2 separate regions of the Homo sapiens genome follow, and region 2 is linked to region 1. Evidence: fine-mapped expression QTL. A gene starts in region 1. The other region holds a variant in brackets. All regions are shown on one strand. Distances are from middle to middle.

The links.
Region 2: its variant is fine-mapped to the expression of SORBS2-AS1 in esophagus mucosa (GTEx, PIP 0.95).

The regions. Positions count from the first base shown.
Region 1 is chr4:185,586,620-185,589,532 of GRCh38, reverse strand. SORBS2-AS1 (SORBS2 antisense RNA 1) reads right to left here and starts at 1,608. Exons shown (of 4, transcript NR_186082.1): 1 at 1,343-1,608; 2 at 304-379. SORBS2 (sorbin and SH3 domain containing 2) reads left to right here. Exons shown (of 27, transcript NM_001395207.1): 27 at 1,845-2,913. The coding sequence ends at 1,906. RefSeq lists enhancers at 1,954-2,033, 1,312-2,511.
Region 2 is chr4:185,817,878-185,820,790 of GRCh38, reverse strand. It overlaps a transcript of SORBS2 not described here. Among named protein-coding and RNA genes, the nearest start is that of SORBS2, 7.1 kb to the right of the region's middle. The variant A/C (reference allele first, on the strand shown) is at 1,342.

The sequences.
Region 1 (2,913 bases):
CAAGGCTATTGCATTTTTAATATAGTTTAGTATTCACTGCTTCAGCTATGTGTGATTTTCTGCGAGCTTTATTTCCAACTCAACTGAGAGAAGACAATTTCTTTAAATAGCAAAAACCAGGAAAGATTGAGATCTAAGAACAACAACAACAAATGGTCCCCAGAAGAGAAATATCAACGCTCTGTGCTGTGGAAAATGTTAGTTGTCCACAGTGAGAATCTAATTTCAGAGGGAGTGAGATTAAGTGAACAGCTCTCCCGTTTCCTAGGTCTGACGTAGATGCCCGAACATTCAGTGACTCACCTTAACTTTAGTTTGTGGTGGAAGCAGAGAGACGTTCCATTCTTCCCACTTAAAAGGCAACTTCATCTTTACCATCCTAAAAAAAAAGACGAGAGGTCTTCTGGGAAAACATTTGTAGACAAAAGTATTTTACACTGGGCCACAGAAAGAGGTGAAAAGGAAACACAGGCTGCAGGGCAGAGAATGGAAGAGAGGAAAGGTGAGAGGAGAGGAGGGCTCACTCTAGACATCCATCGGTGGCAAAATCATGAAAGAATTGAGGCCCTGGTGCGGCCACAAGCCTCTGATTTTATTTCCATTAAAAGAAGAAAAAAAGGCCGGGTGCGGTGGCTCATGCCTGTAATTCTAGCACTTTGGGAGGCCGAGGCGGGTGGATTACCTGAGGCCAGGAGTTCGAGGCCAGCCTGGTCAACATGGTGAAACCCCGTATCTACCAAAAGTACAATAATCAGCTGGGCTTGGTGGCAGGTGCCTGTAATCCCAGCCACTCAGGAGGCTAAGGCAGGAGAATTGCTTGAACCCAAGAGGCAGAGGTTGCAGTGAGCCGAGATCATGCCACTGCACTCCAGCCTGGGCGACAAGAGCGAAACTCCATCTCAAAAACAAGGAGGAGGAGGAGGAGGGAGGAGGAGGAGGGAGGAGAAACGTAAAATGGCTTGCCTAGCCAAGGAAAAAGAAAAACAGCCATCAAACCAAGGCAGTAAGTGCCAGGATATAGGAGACAGATGAAGCTTGAGAGACCCTTATCCGGTCCATCTGCGCTGCCTAAAGAAGAATTTAGCAATTTAGTGCACCAACTTTTACAAGAAGTGTCCAAGGAATTACATTATTTGAAACCAGAGGCGAACATAATTATGATAGCCATTTGTGCGTGTGGTTAAACACACACCATGTTAAAAATCATGCCACTGATAGAACTCCCACACACAAATAGTGCTTAATCCTTTTTTTCATTAATGATTTGTAAATTGTTGAAAAATTGTATACTCGATGAAGGACTCTGGCAGTGCTGTTTTTAAATAAATGATGTGGCACTGACCATGATCTTCTGTAAGATGATAAAACTGTTGGAACAGCGACAGCCTGCCACAGATGATGTCTTCATGTCGCACCTGTGTTGCGCGGGTTGCTGGTCCCTGAGAAGCTTTGCTCTTAGGATTTTCCACTCACCCTGTCACCTGTCAGCCTCGCCTTGATCCCTCACCCCCGACTCTGGTGTGGCAGCCTCAGTGACTGAGCTCCTCCGCCCCCCTCCTCAGCAGGGCTGACTTTCCCTTTAGCTTGGGAGGCTCAGCATTTCTGTTTAGCCTGCCGCGATGGCAGCGCAGCATTTATGCCGGAGGGGCAGTGAGAGCGTCAGGCAACCAGCTAACACTGCTTATTTTGTCTGCCTATGGGCTTCATGTGAGTTGCCTGCCTTCTTTTCCAAACCCCTCGGGGCTTGCTGTCTTCCGAGGCCTTGTAAATGGGAAGTATTCAAGCCCATGTGTATGAACTGATATCGTTGTCACCCCCCTTTCATGACTCGCTTCTATTTTCAGGGACCTCAAGAAGAACCAAATTCTTTGGTACTTTCCCCGGAAACTACGTCAAGAGGCTGTGAATTGCGCTCCCTCCTTCTGTAGAGGCCGCCTGCCAGCCATGCACCTGCGTCAACGCGCCTGAAACACCCCGCGGGCCTCCCGTTGTCATGCCTTACGGTTTCCAATGCGCCGTCACCATCTCCACCTGCCACCAAACCACCAGCAGAGTAGCCGCCGCTGCTGTGAGCCTGGGGACGACATGGCAGGCTGGTCCCCCTCCGTGAAAGTGTGGATTCCTACTTCCTGCTCTAAGCTTTGACACGTCAAAATGTGGGATCAGAAAGAAAAAAATCATGATATTTAAAAATGGTCAAATATTTGAGGCAAAAAAAAAAAAAAAAAGTGTCTCCAGGAGGCTGTCCAGCCTCGTGGCTCCATTTCAACATCTCCCCCCAGGCGATGTTCTCCCCCAAGACGACCAGAAAATTGTTTATTGGGGAATGCTGTGGTTTGCATTTTCATATTCTTCGCTTGGCAGTGTGTATTCTTTTCACAAGTTTGCCTAGTGTCTTGGTTTACACAATATGACAACTGTAACTGTACTTTAGCTATTGTTTGCCTGCACATACATGTTGTAATATGCACAGTGATTACAACCTTTAAAGCAAGAGGAGGCGAGTTAATTTGGATGAGTGTGATTTTGCTGATTGAATGTGAGTTTTCAAATAGGAGTCTTTTTCTGCAATTTGTTTGCATTTTTTAGAAGTGCAAACAGTAAGTAAATAAAAGCCTTCGGTAATAATCATGACAATACAAGAGGCTGAGCTAGGCTACAGGGGAAAACTATTGTGTTGTAAAGTTGCATCGCTATTTTATATTAAAATGTAATGATCAGCATCATGAACAATGAGCTCTTAGTGTTTTATTTATCTGAAAAAATGTAAGTAAAAGCAGTGTTAGTGAGAGGTGCAAAGAATTATTCTAACAGACACCTGAAAGTATCTGTAAGCAATACTAGTAGGTAAGATTTCACTGTGTGTACACATACACATTTGAGATTGTATGAGAACATATAATCCATATGATA
Region 2 (2,913 bases), 230 kb before region 1:
GACAGACAGAGATTAAGTAAATAAAAGCACAAGTAAATGTGCAGCGTGTGAAGTCCCGGGACTGCCAGGACTCTGCTACAGAACTCTTAAAGAACACGGTGCCTCTTTTCTTAAAGGGCCCTGTGTGTCGGCTGAGACGCTGTCTGCAAGGCCTCCGTAGGCCTTCCCCGCAGGCAAGGTGTCCGCGCACGCTGCTCCCTAGCCTCTGTCCCTGTCCCTCTGTGGTCTCAGCTCCCTACTCCTTCCCCAACTGCAGGACTTGGGCACACCATGCCCCTCCTCTGAAGGCCAGCCCTGCCCTGGCAGCCCCTTGGCATCTGGTCGATAAAGTCCCCACTAGATTCTATGAAAAGGTTAAATGAGGGAAAGAACTAGGGCTGCCGAGAGAATAGGAAACTGGTGCCAATTTAAATTAAAGGGGAGGGGAGGACATCAGCCGGGAAGGAAAGCAGGAGGCAGAAGCGAAAAGGCCTCCTGCTGGCTGTTCACACAGCGCCGCGCTGTCCAGGTGAGGTTGCAGGGAGCCTGCGATAAGTTCCCACTGATGACACTAGTGCCTGTTTCTCCTTTGCTGAAGCCCACGGCCCTCACCGTCTGGACCATTCTTTTGATGAACACATGCATTTGTGTTGCTTTTTGACGCTCTGGTCCACGTCCAGCTGATGTTTCCCACGGTATTGGAAGGTCCCGGAGGTCCGTGCCCACCCAGTGCCGCACCATAAATCAAAGATACAAAATTCAAGATAATACCTAATACCCTTTTATGCTAATTAATGGATTTAATTGCCACAACCGCCCTCAGAATTAGATAATATTATCATCCTTTCTTATGAGGAAACAGAAGCACAAAGAGGTTAGGCAATTTGCATATCACACAGCTAACAAATTGCAGAATATTTGAATCCACACCATTTATTTATTTGTTCCACAGTGAATGAACAAGTATACTTTGAGATATTGATATGAAACCAGTATAAGGAGAGATGGCAATGCTTTGAGTCTGTGCTGAGGAGTTAAGCACAGTGGCTGGATAGGCAAGGACACCCCCAGGCAGGAATGAAGGAAGGGTGCTTCCGCAACCCACCGAGTCAGCCTGGGTGATCCCTGCACTGACAGGTGACCAGCCAGGAATAAAGGCTCACTGACAATGTCCAGAAATGAGATAGTACTTTCTTTGTACCCAGGCTGACATGAGCTGGCAGAGGCAGCTTGTTGTCTATCCACTCCCTATTATCAATTTGTTTCTCAGTAGTAGAACACTGGTTTACCTGGGACCAAAAGGCGTCCGGCTGAAAAGACCACGTTTTTGAGACTTACTTATCACTCAGGATGCAATGAGAT[A/C]TCAGCAGAAGTGCTGGGTGGGAGGTGGGGAAAAGCTCCTTCAAAGAGGCCAACTCAAGCGGAAAATGTGCCCCTTGGCTCTCCCTCTCCTCTTCTTGCCTGGAACATGGACCTGATGGCTGGAGCACAAGTAGCCATTCTGGACCACGAGGATTCTTGAGGATAGAAACCAGTTTCAAAAGATGACAGAACAGAGGGTAGGAGCTAGAGTCCTAATAATCATGAGGCCAATTTTCTACTAGCCTAGAACTCCTTATTTCTCAATCCTTCAAGTGAGAGAAAAATATAGCTCTGTCTCTTGTAAGCCCTGTTATTTGAGCTTTCTCTCCTATGCAGCCAATCCTGATCCTGTGATAAGACTTTCTCATGTGTTACCAAAAATTGAAACACAACTTGAGTTTGCTTCCAATTGTTGGAAGCAAACCATGTCTTTAATGAAGGAAAGATATAGGAAAGAGTCCACATGCCAAGAGAATAATGGGTCCTTCAAGATGCAGGTCAGGTATCAGCTCTCAGATAAATTTTTTAAAATCTACCTTTATGCCTATAGGAAAGTTGGTTGTGGAATGATTTGTCATGCTACTTTAAACCTCACAAGGAATGTTTCTTTTCTTTTTTTTTTTTGAGACAGAGTCTCGCTCTGTCACCCAGGCTGGAGTGCAGTGGCACGATCTCGGCTCACTGCAACCTCCGCCTCCTGGGTTCATGCCATTCTCCTGCCTCAGCCTCCCAAGTAGCTGGGACTACAGGCGCCCACCACCAGGCCCAGCTAATTTTTTGTATTTTTAGTAGAGATAGGGTTTCACCGTGTTAGCCAGGATGGTCTCGATCTCCTGACCTCTCACAAGGAATGTTTCAAATAGTCTTCCTTTGATGCAGGAAATGTCCAGAAGAATGTTCTCAGTTCAAGGCAATGATCTGGCAATTAGGATGCCAGAGTCTGACTTTTAAAAATATAGGCTGCTGGGCACGGTGGCTCATGCCTGTAATCCCAGCACTTTGGGAGGGCAAGGCAGGTGGATCACAAGGTCAGGAGATGGAGACCATCCTGGCTAACATGGTGAAACTCCGTTTCTACTAAAAATACAAAAAATTAGCCTGGTGTGGTGGCGGACACCTGTAATCCCAGCTACTCGGGAGGCTGAGGCAGGAGAATCGCTTGAACCCAGGAGGCGGAGATTGCAGTGAGCCAAGATTGTGCCATTGCACTCCAGCCTGGACGACAGAGCGAGACTCCATCTCAAAAACAAACAAACAAACAAACACATAGGCACTGAATTCTGACCTGGGTAGGCTTAGTAAAATAATTACCATTCTGGGTTATAGCTCCCATCCAATATTCTGCAAGCACGCATAGTTTATTTTTCCTACCTGCACGTGCTGTCACTGTCAGGCCTTTAACTGAACATCTACTATTTCCAGTGCGGATTGGGGATTTTTATTTTTCAACAGTATTTTCCACTTGTTGTTGGACCGTTGGATCCTAAAACGTGTACCTGATTGTATTAATACATCACTTGGGCCCATCTTATTATCTTGACCAATGAATCTTACTGAACATGTATTTCAGAA